Linked DNA regions of Homo sapiens. The protein of the gene in region 6 purifies or fractionates together with the protein of the main gene of each other region. This does not show direct contact. Each region holds a gene or a part of one and is shown on either strand. Other genes may lie near its edges. The genes, in order: RPAP2, PLCL2, KIFBP, DNAAF10, TOX4, PPP1CC and ADISSP.

What was found.
Region 1: the proteins of PPP1CC (region 6) and RPAP2 purify together in Homo sapiens (affinity purification with mass spectrometry; 4 studies listed by BioGRID and IntAct, with this or other methods). This does not show direct contact.
Region 2: the proteins of PPP1CC (region 6) and PLCL2 purify together in Homo sapiens (affinity purification with mass spectrometry; 5 studies listed by BioGRID and IntAct, with this or other methods). This does not show direct contact.
Region 3: the proteins of PPP1CC (region 6) and KIFBP purify together in Homo sapiens (affinity purification with mass spectrometry; 5 studies listed by BioGRID and IntAct, with this or other methods). This does not show direct contact.
Region 4: the proteins of PPP1CC (region 6) and DNAAF10 purify together in Homo sapiens (affinity purification with mass spectrometry; 9 studies listed by BioGRID and IntAct, with this or other methods). This does not show direct contact.
Region 5: the proteins of PPP1CC (region 6) and TOX4 purify together in Homo sapiens (affinity purification with mass spectrometry; 4 studies listed by BioGRID and IntAct, with this or other methods). This does not show direct contact.
Region 7: the proteins of PPP1CC (region 6) and ADISSP purify together in Homo sapiens (affinity purification with mass spectrometry; 7 studies listed by BioGRID and IntAct, with this or other methods). This does not show direct contact.

What each region holds. Positions count from the first base shown.
Region 1 is NC_000001.11:92,326,101-92,330,781, reverse strand, and holds part of RPAP2 (putative RNA polymerase II subunit B1 CTD phosphatase RPAP2), read right to left. Parts: intron 1-4,681.
Region 2 is NC_000003.12:16,883,055-16,888,185, reverse strand, and holds the start of PLCL2 (inactive phospholipase C-like protein 2), read right to left. Parts: upstream 3,232-5,131; 5' UTR 3,147-3,231; coding exon 2,820-3,146; intron 1-2,819. UniProt on the Homo sapiens protein: May play an role in the regulation of Ins(1,4,5)P3 around the endoplasmic reticulum.
Region 3 is NC_000010.11:69,012,803-69,015,142, reverse strand, and holds part of KIFBP (KIF-binding protein), read right to left. Parts: intron 1-2,340. UniProt on the Homo sapiens protein: Activator of KIF1B plus-end-directed microtubule motor activity. Required for organization of axonal microtubules, and axonal outgrowth and maintenance during peripheral and central nervous system development.
Region 4 is NC_000002.12:68,132,863-68,137,543, forward strand, and holds part of DNAAF10 (dynein axonemal assembly factor 10), read right to left. Parts: intron 4,572-4,681; coding exon 4,437-4,571; intron 1,938-4,436; coding exon 1,840-1,937; coding exon of another isoform or gene 1,839-1,839; exon of another isoform or gene 1,222-1,838; intron 1-1,221. UniProt on the Homo sapiens protein: Key assembly factor specifically required for the stability of axonemal dynein heavy chains in cytoplasm.
Region 5 is NC_000014.9:21,493,014-21,496,932, reverse strand, and holds part of TOX4 (TOX high mobility group box family member 4), read right to left. Parts: coding exon 3,676-3,919; intron 1,705-3,675; coding exon 1,541-1,704; intron 388-1,540; coding exon 327-387; 3' UTR 1-326. UniProt on the Homo sapiens protein: Transcription factor that modulates cell fate reprogramming from the somatic state to the pluripotent and neuronal fate. In liver, controls the expression of hormone-regulated gluconeogenic genes such as G6PC1 and PCK1.
Region 6 is NC_000012.12:110,732,892-110,737,572, forward strand, and holds part of PPP1CC (serine/threonine-protein phosphatase PP1-gamma catalytic subunit), read right to left. Parts: intron 1-4,681. UniProt on the Homo sapiens protein: Protein phosphatase that associates with over 200 regulatory proteins to form highly specific holoenzymes which dephosphorylate hundreds of biological targets.
Region 7 is NC_000020.11:3,757,106-3,761,786, forward strand, and holds part of ADISSP (adipose-secreted signaling protein), read right to left. Parts: intron 3,082-4,681; 5' UTR 2,996-3,081; coding exon 2,977-2,995; coding exon of another isoform or gene 2,902-2,976; intron 1,574-2,901; coding exon 1,431-1,573; intron 1-1,430. UniProt on the Homo sapiens protein: Adipocyte-secreted protein (adipokine) that acts as a key regulator for white adipose tissue (WAT) thermogenesis and glucose homeostasis at least in part through activation of protein kinase A (PKA).

The DNA.
Region 1 (4,681 bases), on a different chromosome or scaffold from region 6:
CAAAAAGTTTTTAAAAATTGACTACCCACAGGCCAGGCGTGGTGGTTCACACCTATAATCCCAGCACTTTGGGAGGCTGAGGCAGGCAGATCACTTGAGCTCACGAGTTCGAGACCAACCTGGCCTGGCCAACATGGTGAAACTGTGTTTCTACTAAAAATACAAAAGTTAGGCAGGCATGGCACGGGTGCCTGTAATCCCAGCTACTTGGGAGGCTGAGGCAGGAAAATCGCTCGAACCCAGGAGGTGGAGTTTGCAGTGAGCCAAGATGGCACCATTGCACTCCAGACTGGGCAACAGAGAAGATTCCATCTCAAAAAAAAAAAAAAAAAAAAAAAAAAATTGACAACCCACAAAGAAAATCAGAGGAAAAGATAGTTCAATGAGTGATCTTCTAAACATTTAAAGAACTAACATTAATTTTAGACACATTCTTCCAGAAATGGAGGGAACATTTCCCAACTTGTTTTACCAAATGATTACAACCAAAACCTGATAACGATATTACAAGAAAGGAAAATTATAGGCAGTGCAAGGTATCTTCATTCTGAACAATTTTCACCCTTTTCCACCTGTCTTTGTACTTCAGAAGGCTGATCTGTATGGGCTGCATCAATGGGCTTCCTTGCTCTCTGGCTTTTATCTCAGTTTTGCCAATGAAGAATAAGAAACTGGACGGTGCAGAAGAGTCATTCCCACTTGGTCCACTACAAGCAGCACTTCCTTGGTACAAGACCTTGTGGTCCACTCCTACCTTTTTCCTTGAGGTCTAGGGGTGGTGAGGGCTCTCAAACTATGATTAGTGTATCATTCCTTTGGTTTCCTTCATTCTGACCACATTTTCACGCTTTGGAAAACAGTCCTATAATTAAACTTTCCTCAGATTACTTAATTTGTACCATGTGATTTATGATGAGACCATGACCAATTCATACGCTAATGTCACTCATTCTGAAAATATGTGCAAAAATTCTAAGGCAAATATTAGGAGGACCAAATCCAGTATTATATAAAAAGGCTATTATAGCTCAATCAAGTTGAGTTTATTATAAGAATGCAAAGTTGGTTTAATATTAAAAATAAATGTTAGGTCTGGGAAAAAATAGCAGATAGGAGGCAGGACTAACTTGCAGTTCCCACTTGGTCAGACAGAGCGGCATGTGGAGACTCCCATCATGAACTTTTGCTCCAAGAACTACCGCAGAAACATACCAGAAAAGGCAAGGAACTGTGAGTCAGCTTGCTTTCTCAGCTGGGAGGCCTGTAGCCTGGGGCAAGTTCTCAGCCCTGCTCATCAGCTGCCTGGAAATAAACTTGGTGCTGTTGTGGGGGCACGGTGGGAGTGAGTCTGGCCTTTTAGGCTGCAGGCTGTGTGGAAGCTGGGTGAGGCCTGTGGTTGCCAGCTTTCCCCCACTTCCCTAGTGACCTGTGTGATGCAGCAGAGTCAGCCATAATCCACCTGGGAACATAACTCCATTGGCCTGGGAATCACACAATGGTACCCCCACCTGATGGTCTTTCTCTACTGGCCCTGGTAGCCGAAGACAAAGGACTTAATCTCTTGGGAGCTCTATGGCCCTACCCACTGCCTGACCCCAGAGCAAGCTTGTATCCTCCCTATCCTACTGCAGCTGATGCACTCTTGAAAGCACCACCTCCTGGCTGAAGGCCAACCAACACAAAACCAGCGCACTTAAAAAAAATACAATTAAGGACCCTCACAGAGTCCACTTCACTCCCCTGTACCTCCACTGGAGCAGGTGCTGGTATCCACAGCTGAAGACGGATCACATCACAGGACCCTTTGCAGACACTCCCTAGTACCCGCCAGAAGCCTGGTAGCTCTGCTGGGTGGCTAGATCCACAAGAACAATAACAATCACTGCAGTTTGGCTCTCAGGAAGCCCCATCCCTAGGGGAAGGAGGAGAGCACCAAATCAAGGGAGCACCCTGTGGGACAAAAGAATCTAAACAGCAGCCCTTGAGTCCCAGATCTTCCTTCTCACAGTCTACCCAAATGAGAAGGAACCAGAAAAACAATTCTAGTAATATGACAAAACAAGGATCTTTAACAACCCAAAACATCATACTAGCTCACCAGCAATGGATCCAAACCAAGACAAAATCTCAGAATTGCCAGAAAAAGGATTCAGAAGGTCAATTATTAAGCTAATCAAGGAGGCACCAGAGAAAGGTGAGGCCCAACTTAAAGAAATCAAACAAATCATACAGGATATGAATGGAAAAATCTCCAGTGAAATAGATAGCATAAATAAAAAACTATCACAACTTTGGGAAATGAAGGACATACTTAGAGAAATGCAAATGCACTGGAAAGTCTCAGCAATAAAATTGAGCAAGTAGAAGAACTTCAGAGCTTCAAGACAAGGCTTTTGAATTAACCCAGTCCAACAAAGAAAAAAGAATTTAAAAAATGAACAAAGGCTCCAAGAAGTTTGGGATTATGTCAAACAAACAAACCTAAGAATAATTGGTGTTCCTGAGAAAGAAGAGAAATCTAAAAGTTTGGAAAACATATTTGAGGGAATAATCAAGGAAAACTTCTCCAGCCTTGCTAGAGACCTACACATCCAAATACAAGAAGCTCAAAGAACACCTGGGAAACTCATCATAAAAAGATCATTGCCCCGGCACATAGTCATCAGGTTATCGAAAGTCAAGATGAAGGAAAGAATCTTAAGAGCAGTGAGGCAAAAGCATCAGATAACTTATAAAGGAAAGCCTATCAGATTAACAGCAGATTTCTCAGCAGAAACCCTATAAGCTAGAAGACATTGGAGTCCTATCTTTAGCCTCCTTAAACAAAACAACTGTCAGCCAAGAATTTTGTATCCAGCGAAACTAAGGTTCATAAATGAAGGAAAGATAGTCTTTTTCAGACAAACAAATTCTGAGAGAATTCACCACTACCAAGTCAGCACTACAAGAACTGCTAAAGGAGCGATAAATCTTGAAACAAATCCTGGAAATAATACCAAAATAGAATCTCTTTAAAGCATAAATCTCACAGGACCTATAAAACAATAAGACAATGAAAAAAAAAAAGCTGTTCAGGCAACAAATAGCACGATGAATAGAATAGTACCTCACATCTCAATACTAACATTGAATGTAAATGGCCTAAATGCTCCACTTAAAAAATACAGAATGGCAAAATTAATACGAATTCACCAACCAAGTATCTGCTTTTCAAGGGACTCACCTGACACATAAGGATTCACATAAACTTAAGGTAAAGGGTGGAAAAACATATTCCATGCAAATGGACACCAAAAGTGAGAAGTAGCTATTCTTATATCAGACAAAACAAACTTTAAAGCAACAGCAGTTTAAAAAGACAAAGAGGGACATTATACAATGATAAAAGGACTAGTCCAATAGGAAAATATGACAATCCTAAATAAATATGCATCTAAACCTGGAGCTCCCAAATTTATAAAACAGTTACTACGAGACCTAGGAAATGAGATAGAAAGCAACACAATAATAGTGGGGGACTTCAGTACTCCACTGACAGCACTAGACAGGTCATCAAGACCTGTTCCTGAATGATCACTAGGTCAACAATGAAATCTAAGTAGAAATTAAAAAATTCCACTGTGGTCTGAGAGAATATTTGATATAATTTTGATTATACCCTAGAACAAATGGATTTAACAGATATTTACAGAACATTCTACCCAACAACAGCAGGATATACATTCTATTCATCAGCACATGGAACAGTCTCCGAGATAGACCATATGATAGGCCAGCTGAACTTTGTAACAATTCCAAATGAACAGGAAGTCTCCTGGCCAGAACTCAAGGGAGGGTGTGAATCTGGTGTGCAGACTCCACAGGCTGGGAGATGTGAAAGCCCTACTTGTTCTCACAGGTGAGAGGCTGGTAGCCTGGGGCAAGTTCTCAGCCCTTCCTGCCCACTGCCTGTAAACAAACTTGGTGCTGTTTGAAGGGACATGGTGGGAGTGAAACTGGTCTTTTGGGTTGCATGGGAGCTGGGTGAGGCCTGCCACCAGCTTTCCCCCACTTCCCTGACAACCTGCATGACACAGCAGAGGCAGCCATAATCTTCCTGGAATAGCTCCACTGACCTGGGAACCACACTCCCATCCCCCACAACAGCCACAGCAAGCCCTGCCCAAGGAGTCTTGAGTTCAGACGCACATAGCCCTGCCCCCATGACGGTCCTTCCCTACCCACTCCGGTAGCTGAAGACAAAGGGCATATATTCTTGGGAGTTCTACGGCCCTACCCACAGCCTGATCCTCCCTATACTACCACAACTGATGCTCTCTTGAAAGTGCCACCTTCTGGCAGGAGGCTAACCAGCACAAAAATAGTACATTAAACAACCAAAAGCAAGGATCCTCACAGAATCCATTTCACCCCCCTGCCATCTCCACCAGAGCAGGTGCTGGTATCCATGGCTGAGAGATCTGCAGACCTGACCTAAGAGATTATCCAAGTGGTCAATAAGCAAATAAAATAGTGCTGAATTTATTCATCATCACAGTAATGTATTATAATCATAAACCAATACTACCAGAATGGCTAAAACTAACTATATCAAGTACCAGGGAGGACATGGAATCAAGGAAACTCCCATATAGTAGTAGTGGAACTGTAAACCGGTACAACCACTTTGGAAAACTGTTTG
Region 2 (5,131 bases), on a different chromosome or scaffold from region 6:
CACTTTAGCAATAGTCCCCCTTTCTTTGCCCACCTTATAGCACATTTAGGCCATTATTCTCCCTCTGATTTAAGGATCTCCAACAAAGAGGGCTGTCAAGACTGTAATGAAGATGAAAGCTAGGAGAGAGGCACAGTTCAGAAGCCCAGCATTTCAACTAATACAACCCCATAAATACCGGCCTCAGTTCCCCAGGTAGCATTCACTCCCTGCTATTCCCTCAAGTCCCCAATTATCACCTTGCTTACTAATCTACTCCTGCCTCTACTCAGAGACCACCTGACTGCATTCATCCCTTATATTAAAAAAAATAAGGAAACCAAGGAAAGATGTCACTATTGCTTTTTCACATGGGCTTCTGCTTTAGCTTTTTATTCTTTTTTTTTTTAAACAAAAGTGAAACATAATTTCTGCCATTCACATGACAAAACTATCTGTGCAGTATTTGTTGCTTTATGAAATTTGATGTTAAAGACTTTGTTTTCTATTAGGATATTGTCCTGATGCTGGAAGTTATCTTTAGAAAATACCACAATACATTCCAAAAATCTTGATGCTTCAAGGCACCAATTCAAAGGGAAATATACCAAGTAGTTACCTATTTAAATATAGCATCCTCTCTTTCCTATAACCCAGTATTGATCAACTTTCAACACTACTTCCATAATTTTCGAAAGTTTTAAGAAAATGCAAAGTGAAAACAGAGGCAAGAAAAAGGAGTATGTCAAGCCTTCTTTGGAGGTACAATACAATGAACAAAATATGGGACTGGTAAATCCAAAACCAATTGTTTTATAAATTAACAGAACTCAGAGAAAACATGTACTTTCTCCATTCATTCAATAAGCAATTTATTGAGCTGCTACTACATTCCTGGCACTTTATATCTAGGGTTACACTGGTGAACAAGAAGCCAAATGCTTTCTTTACAAAGAAGAAAAATGACAAAATATCCTTAAAAGTTTCAGAATTCAACATAAGTATCAATATCATTTCTAAAATCAGTGATTTTTGAACATTAATCATTTCCCCCATGTGCTTCTAGAGCCTTCAATTAAGAAATGGTATCTATTGACAAGTTCCCAATTCCATATATCAGAAATACTAACAAATCATCCTTCTTGCTTATCGCCCAGTAATGTAAAATTAAAACAAATGTTTTTGTAATTCAGTAAGTTACACTATGAATCTCACTATGGACACTAATAAAGTTTGATTTTTTAATGCAAAAACAAGTATTCAAAACAATTAAAAGAAAGGGGTTAAAATTAGGTAGGCTGGTATCTTCTTTGGAATTTTCACCTCAAATTTTATTAACACCACAATGCAAAATCACCACAAATATTTTATGACAAATAAAAACAGAAATGTCACCTAACTCTGTCAATAGGATTGATTATCATGCACAGTTGAAAGCAACTTCCATGGAAACATAAGCTACAGAGTAAAAGAAAACGTAAGTCACTAAAAGCTATGTATGCAGCAAAAAGACACTTTACTTTCCTTAGTTTATCTCTACGTGTGTGCTGCAGGTAGTTAATACACTTCATCTCCAAACCCTTCAAATTGTGTCCTTGCCCAGACATAAACTGCGCAAACAGATGACAAAGGGAAATGCAGTTTCACAATTGCCTCTTACATAGAGTAGCAAGATGGTATATTTCACTAGATTACTGCATAAGTTGATAACACCATCAGACATTTTCACAGTACTTGGAAGATTTCTGTAGGTCCAATAAAATTTCAGATACCACCACTGCCAACTCTCTTTACTGTGGCACGTTCTGCCCTCCCACCAGTTATCAGCCACAGGAAGGGTGGGTGCAGCCTGTCAATTTGCTTTGCTGCTCCCTGTCCTGATAACTCCTTGATTTTCAGAAAGCAATGTTTTCATTTGCTCCAAACTTGAGCGAGCCGAATGAGCTGGTCTTGCCTAAGGCTCTGCTCTTCTTAGCTCATCAACTATTTTTTTTTGCACTTCATGTCATGAAAAATATTTTTACATTGCGAACCAAAATGTAACATTAGAATGAAACTAACACAAACTCGGGAGTTCCTAATATTACTTCTTGAGTTTAAAATGCTCAAAACAATCGCTGGCTTTCTTCCGCTAACACTGTGCAAGCAAAACCAAGCAAACTGCCCAAAAGAACTTCCACAGTACTCGAGGCCTGCCTACTGCAGCAAGGAAAAAGATTAAATCGTGTGGAACTGTAATCTCTGAGCTTTTGAGCCTAAGAAAGCGGAAATCTGCATTTATGTTCAGAAATCTACTCTATTTTTCTTTGTGACTGAGTGACCGGATATTAGGAGATTTTGCACCCTCGAAGTGTAAACATTTGTAAGAGCCAACTAACTGTATACGGATCAGAAGAACCCTATTAAATAATCTCTGTTCACCCTCTGTTCGCCGCCTGGGATTTTTAAGAAAATGTTCTCACATTTCACATAATCCCTATCTGTGTTTAAGATACAATAGAAATCTTACAGGGAGTCTGTTAACCAGACTAGGCTACACATAAGAGTATGCCCTACCCCGGCAGGTACAAGGCCCTAATGCCAGACCAATCCTGGAAGAGGTGACAGCCCCAAGTTCAACTGAGGATGTCTGAGCACAGCTCCCCCTGCACATTAGGGATCACCTCTCCATTCTTTCCACATGCCATTTGCATCCAATCCCCGCTCAACCACCCCAAGCACCCATGCTCCAGTGGTTCCTGTTAGCAGTGGGCTTCCTCCTTCCACCACCACTCCCCCAGGGAGAAAATAGAATCCAAGGACGGCTGAGGGTGGGCGATGAGCGCCCTTCTCCCACCTACCTTGATGATGCTGCTCCGGCGGGGCAGGCCGCCCGGCTTGCTCTCCCGGGGGAGGGTACAGACGACCGCGCTGGGGGTCGGGGCGAGCGCAACGCCGCGGGGTCCCCTGGTAGGGCTAGCCCGGGCTTCGTCCCCGGACACGCCGAGGCTGCAGTCTCCGTTGGAAACCCCGCCGCTGTCATAGCGCGCCCGCCCGTGGCCGAGGCGACCTCCCCCGCCACCGCCTTCCCCCACTCCGGCTTTCAGGGCGCCCTTGGCGCCGAGGGCCGGGCCCGGGGAGGTGGGCAGGGCCCCGCCGGCGGCGCCCCCCCGGCCGCACTCCGCCATGGGCGCCCCGCGACCCGCCTGCACAAAGCCGCGTCCTCGCGTCCCCGCGTCCCCGCCGCCGCCTCGGGCCGCCGCGCGCGGCCCCTCCTCCTCTCCTCCCGCCGCCGCCTCGGCCGCTTCTTCCGCTTTTTTTTTTTTTTAATTTAGATGTGATGTTTGTTTCGAGCTCTCGCCTTGCGCACGGTTAAAGTCGCGGCGGCAGAATTATCGGAAGATTCCTGCAGGGGAAAGAAGAGAGAGACGAGTCAGCTCCGGCGCCGGCGGAGCCCCGGCTCTCGGCACCTGGGGAAGGAAAACACGCCCCAACACACGCGCCTCTGCGGGCGCCAAAAATAACCCGCGCGGGCCGGGCGCCCACCCCGGGGCAACCCGCGCCCACCTCAGGGGCCCCAGGCACCCACCCCGAGGTAACGGGGCGCCCACGTCAGGGGCTCGGGGCGCGCTTCCCCGGGGCTCAGAGCAACTGGGGTCGGAGCACCCGCCACGCAGGAAAAGGCGCCCACCTCCGGCGAAGGGCGAGGGGAAGTGGCGGCCGCCCCGACACTCTCTGGACACGCGGAGGCGGCTCCCGAGGATCTCCCGGCCCCGGGCGGGCGGGGGGCGACGCGTGGGTCTCTCCGGACCCTAACTCCCCAGAGGCTGCCGCGTGCCGAGCTCTGTCACGTCCCCTCAGAGCCCCGTTAAGGCCCGCGGCGCCGAGAGGAAGCCCACGGCGGGCAGGGGCGGCCGGGTATGACAATCGCCGTGCGGCCCCGGGGCAGCTCCCGGAGGGGGCAGCCCAGACCCACCCCACCCGCCGGCTGCTGTCTCCTCCCGAGCTCGGCGCTGCCCCCTACAGGCCGCGTGGTCCCTCCTCGGTCGCCCCCTGACCCACCATGAGCCGCCTAGCTCCCTGTCGAGATTGCCGCCGTCGCGGCTGCTGTCACCGAGGCCGGGTCATCGGGCCGCGGGGACCTCAAAGCCGAGTGGACGGGAGCCCCAAGTCATTGCCTATCCTTCGCCTCCCCAGAGCTGCTGCAACTGTCAGTCACCCACCCGGAACCCCGAGGGGCAACTACCAAGTAGGCCTCGGGGCCCGGAACAAGGGTCCCGGGGCTCAGGATCTCGGCCGCTGCGCCTCACTCCTGCCCCAGCCCCGCGCACGGAACTCGTTTCCTTCCCACCCAGTTCGGGACACTCCTCTCTGACTTCCCCAGTAGGTCAGACTCATTTCATACACTGGGACCAATTCCTTTCCCTTGGGCTCCTGATTGATTCAACTAGTTGGAAGGATGCTGAGGCAGGGGTGAAGGCTGGGGTGGCTGGCAGGCTATGAGGGGCAGAGGACATCAGCAGAGCCTATTTCGTGCCCTCTGAGTCTCCACACACAGATTTATCATTGAGACCTTCCCGATTCCCCTACCAGGGATGCCGGCTGGCCCTGCCGGCCTGCGGGGCCCAGCCTAAGTCAGGCTCATCTTTTGGGACAGGATCTCACTTGCAGCGCTACAGCCAGTCCCTCTTCTGGTTCTCACGCACCCACTTAAGGCGGAGTGACTGGCCTAAAAGTCCAAGCTGATCGTGTGGCTTCCGTTCGTAAATATCTCCCCTGGATCTCCCTCCCTGGAGCCAGACAAGACTCAAAACTCCGAAGGGTGAGACCCCAGACCTTCCACCGCCACCCCACGCCCCAGGCCTGGGCCCACCCACCTCTCCATCCCAGGCTCCGTGGGCTCCAGCTTCCTACCCTCTCTGGCACCCCAGCCCTTCCCCAACTCGTGTGCTTTCATTTCCAGGAATGCAGTCCCCGCAGGGCGCAAAGGAGAAACTAATAGTCCAGAGGCGGGGTGAACTTAAAGACCTGGCTTTCATTAGCGTGGTGTTGTAACAGACTGCCAAGGAGCCTCTGAGGAAATGGATTTACGTACATATACATACTCGCCCTTGCCCCTGAAGCAACATCAAATACTTTCATGTTATTCTTGGGGGCGTTTTAATTCTTCCGA
Region 3 (2,340 bases), on a different chromosome or scaffold from region 6:
AGACCAGCCTGGCCAACATAGTGAAACTCTGTCTCTACTAAAAATATAAAAAATTAGCCAGGCATGGTGGCAGGCGCCTGTAATCCCAGCTACTTGAGAGGCTGAGGCAGGAGAATCGCTTGAACCCAGGAGGCAGAGGTTGCAGTAAGTGGAGATTGCGCCACAGCACTCCAGCCTGGGTGACAGTGCAAGACTCCATCTCAAGAAACAAACAAACAAACAAAAAGACTGTAATCTACATCATAAAAATGTTTCACAAGGATGCCATTAAGATTAATGCTACCATGTTTATGCTATTAGTTATTTAGTGAAATATATCAGACAGAAATGCTCTAGGTCTCTTAAAGACATCAAAGTGAACAAAGAGTTAAATCTACCTTCCTAGTTAAAGTTTTATCTCCTCTACCTCTTGGGGGTGGGGGGGGGCAAATAAAAAAAGAAAGAATAACTAAGGTGGTTAAGAAATAGGGTAAGCTCTTCTTGGCCAATAAAAATAAATAATAGATCCCAAGGCCTTTTCTTCTTTTCACTTGACACTGTCTCACCAATGATCTTTCCACAAACCCTTCAAGGTTTCCAAATGCTCAGAAGATGAAGACAACAATGCTTCAAAGCCTTGATTGCTCCAGCCCCTTTCTAACTCTAACTTTAGCTTATATCACACTCCCTCTCCCTCAGCTCCAACCTCACAGCCTTTGCTCCATCCCTTCTGATATCATCCTCCCTTACGCCACAGAACTTCTAAACATGTTGCTTCAGCTCCTTGACATGGTGTGCCTTCTTTTCTTCAGTCTAGGTAACTCCTACTTACTCATCCCCAGAGCTTGCTTGTTATTTCCTCCTATTGTGCCTTCTCATATCATGTGTCTCTCCTTTGTGGAACTTAGCAAAATTGTACTTTTACATGAAGTTAAAGGCTAGGTTCATTTTTGTTCATCATAGTATCCTTGGCCAATGACTAGCACAGGGTTGGCATAAATAAATACTTAATTGAATAAATTTATGTATGTCTTAAAGCTTGAACTGAAGAAGGTCTTTCAGATAAATATACAGATGATAAAGGATGAAGTTAAGGTTAAAAAATAAAGTCAGGGGTGAGCGCAGTGGCTCACACCTGTAATCCCAGCACTTTGGGAGGCCGACGTGGGTGGATCGCTTGAGCTCAAGAGTTCAAGACCAGCCTGGGCAACATGGTAAAACATCGTCTCTAACAAAAATACAAAGAATTAGCCGGGCACAGTGGCACACACCTGTTGTCCCAGTTACTTGGCAGGCTGATGTAGGAGGACTGCTTGAGCCAGGGAGGTGGAGGATGCAGTGAGTGGAGATCATGCCACTGCACTCCAGCCCGGGTGACAGAAACCCCATCTCAAAAAACAAAACTGGGTTTAAGGAAAATCTGAGTAGTTTAGTAGCATGGCAAATATGTGAGTTTAAACTAACCAAGTGATGAAGTTTTAAGTTCCCAGACTAGAAACATCAACTAAATGAAAGGTAAGGGTCAAATCATAGTGCGATTTGCTTGACACAATTACTTCAAATGTAGATCATAAGTCTCTAAATCTTGTATACTTCCTTCCTTCTTGGGCTGCTTGTTTACTTACATGTTCTCTCTAGGATGCTTATTTAAATTAGCCTACTGTTTTGCTCCAATAGTCCCTGCAACCCTCCTTTTCCAGCTTTCTTTACCTGACCAGAATAAACTTGACAGCTCTTCCTGGCTCCAAATTCTCTACACATAAAGCCCCACAGTTATTCTCCCTACTTCCTGTCTTTCCTTAATATGCCTCCTCTTTACCCTCTGACCTCTAAAATTATCTTCATCTTTTCAAGACCTATGCTTCTGATGTGTTGAGGTTTGTTTGTTTGGTTTTCTTTCGTTTAGTAGTTTCACAAGGTTCTATATTATTTACCACTGATATGGTTTGGATTTGTGTCCCTGGCCAAATCTCACATTAAATTGGAGGAGGGACCTGGTGGGAGGTGACTGGATCACTGGGGGCAGATTTCCTCCTTGCTGTTCTTGTGGTAATGAGTGAGCTCTCTCATGAGATCTGATGGTTTTGAAGTGTGTGGCATTTCCCCCTTTGCCCTCTCTCTCTCTCCTGCTTGCCATGGTAAGACATGCTTGCTTCTCTTTCGCCTTCCGCCATGATTCTAAGTTTCCTGAGGGCTCCTAGTCATGCTTCCTGTTAAGCCTGAGGAACTGTGAGTCAATTAACCTCTTTTCTTCATAAATTACCCAGTCTCAGGTAGTTCTTTTGTTTTGTTACCCAGGCTGGAGTGCAGTGGTGCAGTCTTGGCTCACTGCAACTTCTGCCTCCTGGGCTCAAGTGATTC
Region 4 (4,681 bases), on a different chromosome or scaffold from region 6:
TAACTTTACTGACGGAACTAAATCCGCTGTAGTAAAAAATTCCAGCTGCGAAAGTGTTCGTGTGCCTCATGGAATACAAATCCATGTGTAGATTACAAAGAAAACTGGGACTAGTTCTTCAAGCGAGCAGCCTAAAGAGTTTGGTCACCAAGTAAAATAGTGATGTGCCACCACATGGCTTCACTAAGGGGACTGGCAGAGTCTAACGTGGGGAGGAGACCGGGATGGAAGAATCAGGGAAGAACAACAGGCAGAGGTGCTAGAAGAAGGGAAAGTAGCAAGTGATCTCTCTACCCCACATTCTCCCAGAACGACTCAAACTTTTCCTCTGCTTTTCACTCAGAAACCATATTGGTTGTTTGTTTGTTTGTTTGTTTGTTGAGACAGAAAAAGTCTCTGTCGCTCTGTCTCACTCTGTCACCCAGGTTGGAGTGCAGTGGTGCGATCTCGACTCACTGAGACCTCCACCTCCCAGATTCAGGCAATTCTCGTGCCTCAGCCTCCTAAGTAGCTGGGACGTGTGCCACCACGCCCGGCTAGTTCTTGTATTTTTAGTAGAGACCCGGTTTTGCCATAATCATACTGCTTCGATCTAAAGTGTTCACTCTGGCTGGGTGCAGTGGCTCACACCCATAATTCCAATACTGTGGGAGGCCGAGGCAGGTGAATCACCTGAGGTCAGGAGTTCGAGATCAGCCTGGCCAACATGGTGAAACCCCGTCTCTACTAAAAATACAAAAATTAGCCAGGCGTCGTGGCGGGCACCTGTAATCCTAGTTACTCGGGAGGCTGAGGCAGGAGAACCCCTTGAACCTGGAGGTGGAGTCTGCGGTGAGACGAGATCATGCCACTGCACTCCAGCCTGGGTGACAGAGCAAGACTTTGTCAGAAAATATAAGATAAAGCATTCGATCTGCTTTTTGTCAGCGGTATCCCTGCACACAGTACTTTAACAAGTACTTTCCAACTGTAGCCCTGTTTTTCAGAACCCCTTCCAGCTTCTCAAAGGAGCTAATAGAGAAGAATTTTATAAATGTGAAAGTCCCAGATATATTGAGGATGGTGTTTTTCTTCTTACATTATTAATGAAACTTTATTTTTGAAATATCCTTCATTTATGGGCTTGCTGTTTTTTCCCTGAGTGATGTTTAAGAAAGATATAATTTTTCCCCTCCAAGTACATATTGCTTAGCTAATAAAGTATTCAGAAATACCATTAACTCACAATTTTTATCAGACCTTTAATTTTTGTTTTGTTTTGTTTTGTTTCCTTTTCACAGGCCAACCCTGAGCAATGATATCAGACCTTTTAAATGATCTAGTATCTGTGATGTTAGCGCCCTTGGGATTCAGAAAGTGGTGTGCATAGTAAAAGCTTTCATTGTAACTCACCCTGCCTAGATATGCAGAAAGCAAATTCAGTGATAAGATCTTTCCTGGAGACCAATCAGCAGCCTCAGGCTCTGTTGGGGTCTATCACAATGATGTTATCTAAATTTAGGCAAGGAACCCTTTCCCCATCTTTTAGAGGCAGTGAGTGTTCTAATCACTTCAAGATAGTATCTGATAAAAGTCTTGGGCCAACTTTTTCATACTTAGAAGACACAACTAAAATGATATACTAAAATGTATCAAAAGAAGATTAGTGTACACTCTACTAAGTGTAAAGTATATTCATACAAAATGCTTAGAAAACAAGTTATGTAACACCATGAAATTTTAAATCATATCAAAATGAACTAAGTCAAAGCAGGAAAAAAAAGAAAAAAAAGTTCAATCTAATCCTACTTTACACCCACAGGTAACTTTAAAAGGAGCAGTGTGCACTGGCAGACTTACTACTTCCAGAGGTGAAGGCCGCCGGCGCCTCCAGCTGTCAGAAAGAGCTCCCTGTTCTGCGGCAGGTGTCGGACCTGCCACACAGTAGATTTATGAGCCTAAATAGAACAAGAGGCATACAACTGGTTTATATGCTAAATGGTGCCCTGGAAGAGAAACGCTGCAAATAAAAAACTCTTACAACTATAATTTCAATGGTTATAAAAGTAATTAAGGTTATTTTCTGGCACATCTCTTTATAATGGCTATAGAGATTTATAGGAACACATAAGAAATTAGAAAAAGCATCATTTTTCTTTATTGCTTTATGAAACAAAGTTCTACTGGATTTTTAAAAAGACAGGTATTAAAATCCATTTAAGTTTATAGTATCAAATACTTATGAAAATAGATTTTACATATTTAAATACCTCTAGTTCATTCTGAGGGGGAAAACACTCAAAATATAAAAACATATACTTTTGTTTATATATACGAAAAATGTGGACTGAATTAAAAAAATACACTTTAGTTCTGAGAGCAGTTTGAGGTTCACAGCAAAACTCAGCAATAAGTACATAGACTGAATTTTAACTAAAATTTATAGACCGAAATTTAACTAACAGCTCCCAGAGCCTTATTTTCAATTTATTGCCATTTACCTGTCCAGTCTTCAAAATAAGGACCATGAGGACTTACAGACAATGTTTATGGTCATAATAAGCTAAGGTCTTTATCATTCACATTAGACTAAAAGATTAAAAACCAGCAACTGGAAGGTTAACAGGTTGTTAGCACCTCAAAAGCAGCCAGTAAATCCATCCCGGCGCCACTGCATTAACTGGGGGGAACTTAGGAGAGAGAGAGAGACAGAGGGAGAGAGAGAAAGGAGGCGGGAGGGAATGAATGACTGCTGCTTTGTAGAAGCAGTGGGGCTGGCTATCGTGGTACACCACATTTTAGTGAGTGATTAGTCTTGACCTTTGATTTCAATAGTCTTTTGAGAGAATTACCATTAGCAGATAAAGACTCATATCTCAAAACACACATTTTGAGTGTGTAACAGTCTCTCAGTGATTAGGTTCAAGCTGTCGAAACATTTTATTTTGTAGCTTAAACTTCTCTTCTTCTTCAGGAAGTTGAGAAAAACACAAAAAGCAAGAGGGGAAATGACCTCTTAAAATACACCAGAGTCTTCTATTTGGCAGATTTAGCAATTACTGGATTAACTAAATATAATTTTAAAAAACTGGGCCAGGTATAGTGGCTCACGCCCATAATCCCAGCACTTTGGGAGGCTGAGGCAGGAGGATCACTTGAGGTCAGGTTTCAAGTCCAGACTGGGCAACACAGCAAGACTCTGACTCTATGAAAAAAAAAAAATCTAATTAGCCAGATATGGTGGCGTGTGCCTGTACTCCCAGCTACTTGGGAGGCTGAGGCAGGAGGATCACTTGAGCCCAGGAGTTTGAGACTGCAGTGAGCCATAATCATGCCACTGCACACCAGCCTGGGTAAGAGGGCAAGATTCTGTCTCCAGAAAAAAAAAAAAAAAAAAAGCCAAACAAACAAAACAAAAAACCAGAGATGACACTATTATGTATAGATAATGAAATATGTGTTGCAAATTATACATGGAACAGTTTAGTAAAGTGATTTATGTTGTTGATAGATACTTAATATATTCTGAAATGACAAAAGCAAACCAATATTATAATTTATAGCTATCTTGTTAAGAATTTGGTTTTCATAAGGAAGTGACAATAATTTACACACAATAATAATAATGAGACAAAATAGAAAGGTTCAAGAAATCCTACTGAATCCACAGGAGAGAGAGAAGCAACGGAGTAAGTTCTCACTTCCTGAGCAACTTGTATATTTTAATCTTATGGAAACAAGGAATCTGTAACTGATCTTTCTTTCTTTTTATACTTGAGGAAGTTCAAATCACATTTCCAATCCATTTCTTGTGAATGACAGGACCTTTCTGCATGAATTTTCTGTAATCCCCCCAGTCCAGAAACTATCTTTTTTTTAAACCAGTATTTTCCCTTTGCCCTGCTTTCCTCATCTATTGGTCTAACGCCATAATACCGCATTTCCCTCTCAGCTACCTCAAATGCAAGGCAAAGTTAAGTAAGTAAATATTTTTGAACATTTACTATAATCACAGTACTCAGTGATTCAAATAATTTCATTTAATATAGCAAACTGGAATATAAAACAAAGTGTAATGAAATGACATCATGTACATATAGTTTATTTTGAAAAATATATAACCAGGTATTAGCACAAATATTATATACTTATTAGGAAACACCAGGCTGGGTTTTGTTGATCAAATTCCTAATATCAGCTAGGTTTCTTCTAATTGCTCCTAAACTACAAAATAAGATTCCTACCTGAGATCTTTATTATAATCAAGAAGTCTAAAGTTGATAAACTTTGGGGAAGTACTCTTTGCACAGAAAAACTTGTCAAGATCTCACAGGAATATATCAAAAATAGCTCCCTTCACATAAAGACCTGGAAGAAACCTTGGTGACTAATTCTACTTATCAGTCTAAACCAAGCTATCATTCTTCTTCATAGAAAGACATTTCCCTCATATTTACCTTTTCTGAAACAGAGGCAAAACCTTTGGTTGGATGCTGTGTTCTCATGTCAAAAACATGGAACTTTCCTTCCAGAGATGTGGCTACTAACTTATTCATACTTATGTCTTTTCTGTCAAACTCCAAGCTACACACCTGAAAACAGAGAATACTTATTATTGGTAGTCTCACCAGTATTACTCAGGAGGCTCTTTTATACTAAGTAAAACAGCTTTAAAATGGTCAGATAATGTGAAAGCACTCCA
Region 5 (3,919 bases), on a different chromosome or scaffold from region 6:
CAAGTCCTATGACAATTATACCAACAAGTTTCTTCAACCCCACCACCACCCCACCATCTCTATGCTTTGCTTGCCCAGACTCCCTTCACCCTTTCCTCTGCTATTACCGCTTATGGTTGAAAGTAAAAAGCATCTCCAGATTACAGCAAATTCAGTGGCCCTGCTCCATAGCCTGGCCTCTGCTGAAGGAAGAAAAGGGGTGAAACATGAACAGCCATCATGGGTTGTGATGAGGCACTACCAGAAGCCCAGCTTGTGTTTCAAAAACAGGCTCTTGGACACTTTCCCAGCAGATAACTCTTCACTGGCTTGGAGAACAGGAAGGACTATTTCACAAACACCACTGTGTTTGAATTTCTAGAGGCTACCCAGGCCAAGAATACATCCCTAAGAGAGAAAAAGACATACACAAACAGAATTATACACAAACTGAAATAGAATTACAGCCTAGATACATTTTTTTTTTTGAGACGGACCTCATGGGTTCACGCCATTCTCCTGCCTTAGCCTCCCGAGTAGCTGGGACTACAGGTGCCCACCACCATGCCCGGCCAATTTTTTGTATTTTTAGTGGGGACAGGGTTTCACTGTGTTAGCCAGGATGGTCTTGATCTCCTGACCCCGTGAATCGCCCGCTTTGGCCTCCCAAAGTGCTGGGATTACAAGCGTGAGCCACCGCGCCCGGCCGCTACATTCTTTTTATCTTTTTTTTTTTTTTTTTGAGATGGAGTCTCGCTGTTGCCCAGGCTGGAGTGCAGTGGCGTGATCTTCTTGGCTCACTGCAACCTCCACCTCCCAGGTTCAAGAGATTCTCCTGCTTCAGCCTCCTGAGTAGCCAGGACTACAGGTGCCTGCCACCATGCCCGGCTAATTTTTGTATTTTTAGTAGAGATGGGGTTTCACTGTATGGCCCAGCTGGATTTTTTATCTGTCTTAAACAAATAGGTTCCCAGATAATTTCCTACAGCATTATGGTGAGATAGTATCACCTTGAAAATATAAGAACAGTGGGCTTAAAAGTCAGAAGTAGAGGCAATGCTAATTTACTGCAGAGTTTTTGAAATAGGAAATAGAAATGCCTTGTCCTACAGCTATAGGAAATTCCCAGGAAAATTTGGGGAGAGGGGTAAAATATTCCAACCATCTCCCCATTTCCTTCACAAATTGCAAATTATTATGTGTTACTTTCCACTTACCATTTCTCCCCAAATTCTAGTTCCCTAAGTAGTCTGATTTGCACCAAGAATTGAAAAGCTAATATTTGCAAACACTAACAGCTTAATGTATTATATTTTTAAAGAGCATACATAAGAGAGGTATGTGGTAACTGAAAAATGTGAACTGCTGATTACATCATCTTTGGCTTATGTGGCAAATGTAAGCTCTTAAGCAGGGGAGCTTTTCTAGTAGACCAGATACAGCAACCTACTCTACCTAAGGTAAGGTGACACTGAGATGCTGATTTTATGCTCAAGATTCCTATGTTTCCCAGTAGAATTGACCAGTAGCTGAATTATAAAAGGGAGAACTGTAAGCTCACCTGCAGTGCTTCACCACACACTCATTGCTGCAGTATTCATTGTCCCAGTCCTTACTCACAATGGGAGGGTTCTCACAACCAGACCTCACACATCGAGGCTGGGGTGAGAGTGCCACAGGAGACCCACTCACCAATTCAACATCCATCTGAGAAGGAGACTCAACCTGTGAGAAGAAGAAGAGTACCAAGGTGGATTAGATTGCTCCCTGCCTAGCTAGCTAGTTAGCTAAATTATCTGTAGAAACCAATGAAGCAACAGGTATTAGAATTCCTCACACTGGGGGGCAAAACTGCAGAAGAAGGTGAGTTCTTGGTCTCCCCTCTATAGTCCAGCTTCAGAACTTTGCCAAGCAGAATGGTGGAAGATTCTTCCCATCAGGAGAAAGGTGGCCATGTGCTAATGCTTTTTTTTCCCTGTTAAGCCTGGCTAGTCAAGCAGTGGGAATAGAGAGGTAGTGTTTTTTGTTTTTTTTTGAGACGGAGTCTTGCTCTGTTGCCCAGGCTGGAGTGCTGTGGCACAATCTCAGCTCACTGCAACCTCTGCCTCCCGGGTTCAAGCGATTCTCCTGCCTCAGCCTCCCAAGTAGCTGGGATTACAGGCGCCCATCACCGTGCCCAGCTAATTTTTTTTTTTTTTTTTTTTGAGACGGAGTCTCTCTCTGTCTCCCAGGCTAGAGTGCAGTGGTGCGATTTCAGCTCACTGCAAGCTCTGCCTCCTGGGTTCCCGCCATTCTCCTGCCTCAGCCTCCAGAGTAGCTGGGACTACAGGCGCCTGCCACCATGCCCGGCTAATTTTTTTTGTATTTTTTAGTAGAGACGGGTTTTCACCGTGTTAGCCAGGATGGTCTCGATCTCCTGACCTCGTGATCCGCCCACCTCGGCCTCCCAAAGTGCTGGGATTACAGGCGTGAGCCACCGCTTCCAGCCCCAGCTAATTTTTTGTATTGTTAGTAGAAACAGGGTTTCACCATGTTGGCCAGGCTGGTCCTGAACTCCTGACCTCAGGTGATCCACCTGCCTTGGCCTCCCAAAGTGCTGGGATTACAGGCGTGAGCCACCACACCTGGCCATATTTATGTCTGTTTTAAAAAATAACGGTATGAACCAATTAAATTTTTCTGCCTATACCCCCTGCCCCACACACATTTAAAACATCAAGCTAAGGAACTTAAGACCTAGGAGAAATGAAAAGCTTTGCATGTCCAAAGTTTAGGATCCTTGGGTAACAACTCTGAATAATAACTGTTTAGGCTATATCCTGTCCAGTTGAACTAGTGACCTCTGCTTAGTTAAGGAGTGGTCTGGGGCAGAAGACTGTCTTAATGTATCTCACTAAAAACACTATGGGGCACACGGTGGCTCACGCCTGTAATCCCTGCACTCTGGGAGGCCGAAGCGGGCGAATCACGAGGTCAGGAGTTCAAGACCAGCCCAATGAACATGGTGAAACTCTGTCTCTAATAAAAATACAAAAAATTAGCTGGGTGTAGTGGTGGGCGCCTGTAATCCCAGCTACTCGGGAGGCTGAGGCAGGAGAATCACTTGAACTAGGAGGTGGAGATTGCAGTGAGCCAAGATTACACCACTGCACTCCAGCCCAGGCAACAGAGCGAGACTCCGTCTCAAGAAAAACAAAACAAAACAAAACAAAACAGGGCGGGTGCAGTGGCTCACACCTGTAATCCCAGCACTTTGGGAGGCCGAGGCAGGCAGATCACCTGAGATCAGGAGTTCGAGACCAGCCTGACCAACATGGAGAAACCGTCTCTACTAAAAATACAAAATTAGCCGGACATGGTGGCACATGCCTGTAATCCCAGCCACTCGGGAGGCTGAGGCAGGAGAATCTCTTGAACCCAGGAGGTAGAGGTTGCAGTGAGCCGAGATCGCACCATTGCACTCCAGCCTGGGCAATGAGTGAAACTCCATCTCAAAAACAAACAAACAAAAAAAAAACAGTATGAGTACCTTGGGTAAGAGAAGTCAACTGCTGCAAGGAACTCCCATCTGCAGGATGTTTTGTGCTCCTGGTTGCTGGGCATTAAATGCTAGTAGCAACCCCCACTGTTATTGGGTCAACCAAAAACATTTTTATACATTTCCACTAGACTAAAGACTTAAAAACAAAGGCTCACCTCAGGAACTACATCTGTGATCATCTCACAGATAGTCTCAGGAGAAGGTGCCTCCACTGTATGGGCCTCAGGGCTGTTGTTCATAGGCCGCTCAGGACTACTTTCCACAGTTGGTGGGACTAAGGTAGTCTGCATTTTCAAAGTGGGTAGAGGCACACTCTTGATCTGCAGAGGAGGAGGCTGTTGCTGTAAATTGATTCGAACTTTCTGAGGTGGAGGCTGTTGCATGGCCTGGAGTGGAGGA
Region 6 (4,681 bases):
AAAGTAGCACGGAACTGCTAAATGTACCTTAATTTTACAGTTATAAAGTTCACTTTTGGACCCCAAAATATGTAACTAAGTCTCGTTCTGATAAAAATATTATACAACAAGAAGCAATAAAAGCATAGTAATAATAGTCTTCGAGGAAAGATATGAAACAGATGCATATTTAATAAAACAGCAACTGAGCAACAAAAATGTTTTTTTCGTAAGTAATTTTTTTTCTCTCTAGACACACATACAGAGTTAGAACTCAGGAAATACTCCCGGTGAAAGATGGGATCCCCACTTCATTGGCCAGAAAATGCCAATCATTAGTGATTTCACCATAAGTTAACCAAAAACTTGGGCAGACTGCCCAGCAGGAAGCTTTATTTTTGGCTAGGAAGGAAATCCTAGAAGCTTCTGGTTTCAACGTGAATTTTTTTCAGCAGAGTCCCACACTTATGAATGAATAGCTGACTCTAAGTCTTCTAGGAGAGTATTTCTGCGATAAATAGCTCATACCATATAATGGCAAGCTTTGTTTTATGAATGCTATTGCAGTTAGTCAATGCCATCAGATGAAATCAATGTTGCTAACAATTTTTTTTTTTGGCTTTGGACGCTCTCCACTGTCACCTTTGAACATAGTTTATATTTGTTTTAACTCCTTTATTCTGTTTCTGTTTGTCCTCTGGGTGGGGACATTCAGAGATCAGTAAAAAGCAAAAGCAATACTAACAACAATTTAAAAATTCTTCTTTTTTGAAGAAGCCTGGTGCCCAGGCTGGAGTGCAGTGGCATGATCATGGCTTACTGCAGCCTCAACCTTCCAGGCTCAAGTGATCCTCTTGCTCTGGCCCCCCAAGTGCCGGGATTACAGGCATGAGCCACTGCACCTGGCCTTAAAAATTACTCTTAATATTAAGATTAGATGCAGCTTTTCCAGAGAAAATAAAGATTTGTATTTAAAGAATGGTGCTTATGAAAAACATCAACAAACATGGTCTGAAAGCTTCTTAAATTCCCTAAAATTAGCAGAAAGAAAAAAGTTATATAAAGATAGAAACTGCCAAAACCATCTTCCATCAGTTATCATACAACTGCTCAGACTTCAGGCCTCTGCTCAGATACCACACTTCACCCTGGAGAAAAGCTTCTCTCATCCATCTCCTCTCCCCTCACAAGCTTGCTGCATGCTTTTTGAAAGGCTCTCTCAACATCAGGTCACTACCCACCACACCCCCTCAACCATGCTTGTATTTGTTTTATACTTGCCAGTTTGCTTCTGCCGGCTCATCTGGACCCACTGGTAGAATGTAAACCCACAGCAGCAGTCCTGCTCTGTAGTGTACACCAGCCATAGCCAGCACACAGCAGGTGCTCAAAATTTGTTGCATGACTGAAATCTGGATAAGTCTTTAAGTAGTGTTGACTGGTGGCATTAGAATTAAACATATATTCCAGACTATATATTTATTTATTTAGAGACGGAGTTTCACTCTTGTTGCCCAGGCTGGAGTGCAATGGCACGATCTCGGCTCACTGCAACCTCCGTCTCCCGGGTTCAAGCAATTATCCTGCCTCAGCCTCCCGAGTACCTGGGATTACAGGCATGCGCCACCACATCCAGCTAATTTTATACTTTTAGTACAGATGGGGTTTCTCCATATTGGTCAGGCTGGTCTCGAACTCCCGACCTCAGGTGATCCACTGCCTCGGCGCCCAAAGTGCCAGGATTACAGGTGTGAGCCACCGTGCCCAGCCCAGACTATATACTTTTGATGAGCAAAAAGCCTGTTTCTGCACTATAAAATTATAAAACAATAGGGCCACTTGCTTACCAGGCTTTACTGGAGTATTTTTCAAAGTATGAAAATCTAGAATTACTCTTAAATTTCACGTTGAATTGTCTAACAGAGATTTCAAATGGGGCTTGGCAGTCCAAGTGAACACTGGAGAGTTCTTAAAAGTTGTCATATCAGGCTGGGCGTGGTGGCTGGTTACTGCGGAGGCTGAGGCAGAAGAATCGCTTGAACCCGGGAGGTGGAGGTTGCAGTGAGCTGAGATCGTGCAACTGCACTCCAGCCTGGGCGACAGAGTGAGACTCCATCTCAAGAAAAAAAAAAAAAAAAAAAAAGTTGCCATATCAGCCAAAAGCATACAAATTCACTTCACTATTTTTTTCTTTCTTTTTTTGAGATGGAGTCTCACTCTGTTGCCAGGCTGGAGTGCAGTGATGCGATCGTGGCTCACTGCAACCTCCACCTCCTGGGTTCAAGTGATTCTCCTGCCTCAGCCTCCCAAGTAGCTGGGATTATAGGCGTGCGCCACCGTGCCTGGCCCACTTCACTATTTTCAATGTCCATCAAACAGAATTATTTACTCGTTGTAGTTAACATTTACTGAGCACTTATCCACTAGGCACTGTACTAAGGGCTTTATATTGCCATTCAATCCTGTCAACGATCCTAGGAAGTCAGGCACTGTCATCTCCCATTTTACAGTGACTTAGTCCAAGGTCACAGAGCTTAAGGACACGAGGCCGCGATGCTACATCTAGTGGTGCATTCTTAATTCCCAATTAAGAATCTGTTCTACATTGAACTTCAAAACCAAAGGAGAAGGTTGGGCACGGTGGCTCATGCCTGTAATCCCAACACTTTGGGAGGCCGAGATGGGTGGATGACCTGAGGTTAGGAGTTCGAGACCAGCCTGGCCAACATGGTGAAACCCCATCTCTACTAAAAATACAAAAATTTGCTGGGCATGGTGGTGCACGCCTGTAACCCCAGCTACACAGGAGGCTGAGGCACGAGAATCACTTGAACCTGGGAGGTGGAAGTTGCAGTGAGCCGAGATTGTGCCACTGCACTCCATCCTGGGCAACAAGAAAGAAACTCCGTCTCGGCCAGGCACGGTGGCTCATGCCAGTAATCCCAGCACTTTAGGAGTCCGAAGCGGGCGGATCACCTGAGGTAAGGAGTTCGAGACCAGCCTGGCCAACATGGTGAAACCCCGTCTCTACTAAAAATACAAAAATTAGCCAGGCGTGGTGGCAGGCACCTGTAATCCCAGCTACTCGGGAGGCTGAGGCAGGAGAATCGCTGGAACCCACGGGGCAGGTTGCAGTGAGCCCAGATCGCATCATCACACTCCAGCCTGGGGAACAAGAATAAGACTTTGTCTCAAAACAAACAAACAAACAAACAAACTCCGTCTCAAAACAAACAAACAAACAACAACAAAAAAGCAACACCAACTTAGACCTAAGGATGTGACTTTTCAGTAGAAGTATTAATATTTCTTTATCTGGCTAGAAAGGGAGATTCAGGAAAACGTATTATTACTGTTAAAAGCGAAGGTTGCTCTGTAGAAATGTATCTGATCTATTTTTCTGGCAAATCACTGACACGAGCAATAATAAAAACTTCCACACATTTTTATTGAAAACAAACTGGTAAAAATTTGAATTATAAAAGAATAGCAGCCAGATGTGGTGGCTTGGGCCTATAATCCCAGCACTTTGGGAGGCCGAGGTGGGAGGATCACTTGAGCTCAGGAGTTAGAGACTAGCCTGGGCAACATGGTGAAATTGAGTCTCTACCAAAAATACAAAATATAGCTGGACATGGTGGCGTGCGCCTGTAGTCCCAGCTACTCGGGAGGCTAAGATGGGAGGATCACTTGAGCCCGGGAGACAGATGCTGCATTGAGCCGAGATCATGCCACTGCACTCCAGCCTGGGCCACAGAGTGAGATCCTGTCTCAAAAAATATAAATAAATAAAATAGCATTGGTGATTATTTACAACACCAGCTCTTTCTCATAAGCAATACTAACTTTTGAAAGTTAGCTGCTGGCAAAAAGCAAAGCAAAGATGGAAACTATGGAAGGAAATTTAAGACAAGTTTGAGATTATTTATAAGGAATAAAAAAGTATTTTCCTTGCCACATAAAGGCCCCTTAATTGTTTAAATAAAAACATATTAAAGAAATAGCATATACTAAAAAAGCCCTAGCTGAATTCTAATGAAGTTTCAGAACCTAAGAAAGGCACAAGTGGTATAAAAATAAGCCAACGAAGATTTTGCTGTTTTAAAATAATCCTGTTAAAAAGTAGGTGATAATTTTAACAATATGCCACATCATATTCATTTCAGTGAAATCAATAGCCTCATGATATTTGACAGATTTAGGAAAATAAGACTCAAACCAAAACAAAAAACAGTAAATACTTCCAACATTAAGCATTCCCATAAACGACTGAGTTCTTTTCTGCAAAAAGTATAAACCACAAAAATGTTATCAAGAATCCTTTGGGCCGGATGCGGTGTCTAACGCCTGTAATCCCAGCACTTTGGGAGGCCAAGGTGGGTGGATCAGCTGAGGTCAGGAGTTTGAGACCAGCCTGGCCAACATGGTAAAACCCCATCTCTACCAAAAATACAAAAATTAGCAGGGCATGGTGGTACATGCCTGTAGTCCCAGCTACTCAACAACTGAGGCTGAGGCAGGAGAAATCGCTTGAACCTGGGTGGTGGAGGCAGCAGTGGGCCGAGATCCTGCCACTGCACTCCAGCCTGGGTGACAAAGAAAGACTCAAAAAAAAAAAAAAAAAAAAAAAAGAAAAGAAAAGAAAAAAGAACCCTTTAAGTTTCTCTGCAAAGTCACCAGCAGAAAGACTTCCATGTTCTGA
Region 7 (4,681 bases), on a different chromosome or scaffold from region 6:
TTTGGGAGGCCGACACGGACGGATCACGAGGTCAGGAGATCGAGACCATCCTGGCCAACAGAGTGAAACCCCGTCTCTACTAAAAATATAAAAAATTAGCTGAGAGTGGTGGCACGCGCCTGTAATCCCAGCTACTCTGGAGGCTGAGGCAGGAGAATTGCTTGAACCTGGGAGCTGGAGGTTGCAGTGAGCTGAGATGGCGCCACTGTACTCCAGCCTGGAGACAGCAAGACTCCGTCTCAAAAAGAAAAAAAAAAGCTGAAATAACACACATCAGAATATTAACCATGGTTATTTTGGGATAGTATGACTGTGGGTACTTTTAAATTTCTTCATATTTTCTCTGTCTTCCAAATTTTCTCATGTCTATTAAGACATGAGTGGATTTTGCAATGAGGGGAGAGAGCTATTTTTAAGTGTTGGTTTGTTCCATTTACTCTCTTGGGGAAGCTGTCAGCTGTAGGACAAAGAGTGGGAACTTCAGAGTTGGACAGAAATGGATACAAACCTGGGCCCCCCAGGTTCTTTTTTGTTTGTTTGTTTGAGACAGAGTCTTTCTGTTGCCCAGGCTGGAGTGCAGTGGCACAATCTCAGCTCACTGCAACCTCAGCCTCCTGGGTTCAAGCAATTCTTCTGCCTCAGCCTCCCAAGTAGCTGGGACTACAGGCGTGCGCCACCACGCTCAGCTAACTTTTGTATTTTTAGTAGAGACGGGTTTCGACCCATTGGCCAGGCTAAACCTGGGCCCCTTTTGAGCAGCGCAGCAGACCCCCCACTCAGGGCCATCTCAATGGGCCAGACCTCCCCCGACCCAAGGGCACTCCTGTTCAACTCTGGACCCCTGATTTATTGACCAACCTGAAGGCCTCAGTCTCCATTTTCCCCAATCCAGCTCCACCAAGCAGAAAACAGGGGGTGATAATACTACTTCAAAGAGCCTAACTGAGCCAGAGATTTGGCAAAGAAGGGTTAAAAAAAAAGTTGCACCTTGTTATTGCCATAGTTAGCTTCACACCTGTATCACATACATACATTCTTCCATTCTCACACCAACTCTAGGGGATGTGATTGTCTCCACTTGAGAGAAAAGAAACTCAGGTGACCTTCCCAAGGTCACAGAGCCAGAATGGCTGGCCTAGACCTGAACTCAGGCCACTGGCACCACAGCCACGACACTGCCTTCCATTGCTATTGTCTGGGTGAAGCAGATGACAGCAGTGGCTCTGCTCATCTTGATCTGGATGACATTCTAAATGCTCTCATCTCATTGAAATCTCACTGCCTCCCATCTGACAGATGGGGCAACCAAGGCACAGGGAAAGGCACAGACATGCCTATAAGCCCGGCTGAGAGGAACGGGGATAGGCACCCAGAAGCCAGGCAGAGCCGGGGAGGGGAAGAAGCTGCTGATGGGGTAGGTGTGCATGTACCTTGACCAGAAAGCTGCTGTCACTCTCCTGGGTGACCATGACCACCGAGTCATGCAGCTTCTCATCAAAGTGGACGTGGCTGTGGGATCCTTCTGCATCGTGGCCTGCCGCAAAGCGGATACTCCGGACTCTGGGCTTGTTGCCTAGGAAGAGTGGGAGAGGGCTCTGAGGGCTTTCCCTGTCCCCAGGAAACTCCTCCCCCTTGTCCCCTCGTCACCCCCAAGACTGCCCTTGACATCATCCAGCTCCCACTGGCTGGGCTCTTTTCAGGGCTAGATGGACACTAGGATCATGAGGCTTGAGGCCTCCCCGCCGGCCCCGACCTGCCCCTCCCACAAAAATCCATCCCCTGAGAGTGAGCGTGGGGGGACTCAGGGACTGGCTAATATGACCCTTGCTTGGAGGGGGTGGGGCTGGTGCCAGAGCCAGGAAGGGACAGTCTTCCAGACTCCCACCAAGCCAGGGCAGCGTGGGACTCAGCCCAGTCCTCTGGATACCCTGCCCAGTGCTCTCCTTCACAGTGCAAAGCTCCCCATCCCTGGGGCCTACCCCTAAGCTGTGTCAGTGCATGAGGCCCCTGCCTGCCCATCCTCATGACCCAAACCTGAAAGGGCAGGGACAGGAACAGGCTCTGGGGGATCTGCCTGGGGTGGCAGAAACAGGGGGGATCAAAAAACACACTCAGGCCACCTGGGCGAGGCTGCAGCTGCCAGTAAACCTCACTGGCCCCTGGCAGCAAGAAGAGAGAATCCAAGGAAGCTTCCAGACCCACCTCAAGACCCCCTTCCTTCCTCTGTCTAGCCCACCATCAAGGCCCTCAGCTGTCTCTGAGCTGGGTCGGGTTCTCCAAGGCCAGAAAGGGCAGACGGATGAGACAGGCAGGGTAGGCGGGAGCCGAGCTGAAGGCCTGGACTGGATGAATGCTCAGGCTGTAGAGGCCGAGAGCACGGCCCTAGTCCTCTCTGACCCCTGGCCCCTAGGCCCTCCCACCAAGAGCCCTGCCCAGGGTCCTCTTGGCGGGAGGACCTGATCCAGCTTTGAGCCGGCCTCTTGGATACTCGGAGGCCCAGGGGACCAGCCTGGCACATCCACAATCCCTGGTGAGCCCCACAGAACCCTCAAATCTCACCAGATCACCCTGGCCTAAAACCCTCCCTTATCCCTTCTGGACTCTGAAAGAAACCCAAACTCCCTTCCACAGCCTGCTGTGGCCCTCCCACATCACCAGTCTCAGTGCTCACCATAAGCCCCTCGGCTCCCCCAACCCCCACAGTGGAACGGCAGGGACACAAGAGCACACACCTCCACAGACCAGCCTAAGGAGTCAGCAGGGCTCTGCAGGGGTCCTGCTAGGGCTTGCGTGAGCCCCAGAACCTGGCACAAACACTGACATAGTCCCAATCACATTCGCACACCAGCACACACGCACTCACACATGCACACACACACACACAGGTGGTGCGGGCCCTACCTGCAGCAATGGCCCTCCTACCAGGGCCCACCGGAAGAGCTTGTGCAAGTCCTACCACGCCAGGAAGGCACTTACCCTTGTTGGCTGCAGCCATGGACGCCCTCCCTGCCACGCAGCTCCTGCCAGACACCGCCACTCACGCTCAGCAGCCTCCCATGCTCCAGGGACACCAGCGGGAGCCTGAAGGATAGGGAGTGGGGAGGGCAGGGGTCAGGGCCACTCATGGACCCATGGCTCAGGGACACCAGAGGAGCTCCCTTTAGGAAGGACTCAAACCCCTACCGCTCTCAGCAGCCCAAGTGGTGCCTGTACTCTCTAGCACGGGGGCTTCTGCCCACCCTCTACCGACTGCCCACATTCACCAAGAGCCCTCACCCCTTCCTGATACCCCAGTGACTCAGGGTCCTGCCAGCATGTGCTGAGCTGCAGCTTCTAGGTGCCAAAGCAACAGCATAGGACTCCTATCCCCAGCACCCCCAGAGACTGGCAGGAGGGGCAGCCTGGAAAGGAGGACTTTATTGGTATTTTCCAGGGACCAGTTCTGGTGCTGCTGACCCCAAAGGCTGGGCCTGGAGCTACCTTATTCAGGTCACACAAGCAATGCAGCTGGGTGCGGTCAGAGGCAACAGGGTGCTCGATGGTGGGCAAGAACAGGGGACCACATAAAGTAAGCGTGCCCTTAGAGCTTTCCCTCCTGGTGATCGGTCAGGGCCATATGCAAAACAGATGCCTGTGGAGGGGGTGTGCCCCCACCTGAACCCCATTCAGACCCTGCCCTGAGTCTCAGGCCTGCCTCCGCCTCAGCTCCCCAACGGCAGCCTCAGCACAGGGGCAGTGAGAGGCGCCCCAGGAAGCCTCCAATGGGCCGAGCTGGGACCATCTGAGCATCAAAAAGAATAATGAGTGCAACTGATGGAAACAGATGGAACACATAAAAGCAGTGCATTCACAGAGATTATTAGAAAAGAAGAGAGAAAGCAAAACAAACAAACCCAAGCCCTCAAAAGCCCTCATTTGTCACCACTGACGGTAGCAGTGCCCTCTTTACTCTGAAAGCTGAGGATTAAAGAGGAAGAATTCAGCCTGTCTCTTGGCCTTTCTTGTAACCAAATTGCCCTGGTGGTTGATGGAAAGCTCTTCTTTCGGAAAGAATTCTTGCTAATAAATAACAAAGAAATGACCAAATGCTAAGTCATTCTGCAACCCCTAAAGGAACAAATGCTGGAGGCAACAAGAACCAGTGGATGCTAAACCAGAGGGGAAGGTTGACAGGAAGCAGATACTCACAGGCGCCCAAGCGTCACTGACAGAGGACCTGGTATGGTTTTTGTTTTTTTTTTTTTTCTGAGACGGAGTTTCACTCTTGTCACCCAGGCTGGGATGCAATGGCACGATCTCGGCTAACTGCAACATCTGCCTCCTGGGTTCGAGCGACTCTCCCACCTCAGCATCCCGAGTAGCTGGGACTACAGGCGCCCGCCACCACGCCTAGCTAATTTTTGTATTTTTAGTAGAGACAGGGTTTCACCATGTTGGCCAGGCTGGTCTCGAACTCCTGACCTCAAGCAATCCGCTCACTTCGGCCTCCCAAAGTGTTGGGATTACAGGTGTGAGCCACCATGCCTGGCCGAGGACCTGGTGTTTAAGAGGAATGGCACAAGTTTGCAATGGAGGTATGTGACTTCTCCCAGTCACACACTGGTCTATCTCTCTACTCTCTGCAGGACAGCCTGTCACACTGATGCCTCCTGAAGTAAGGCAGCCCAAAGTCACAGCATCA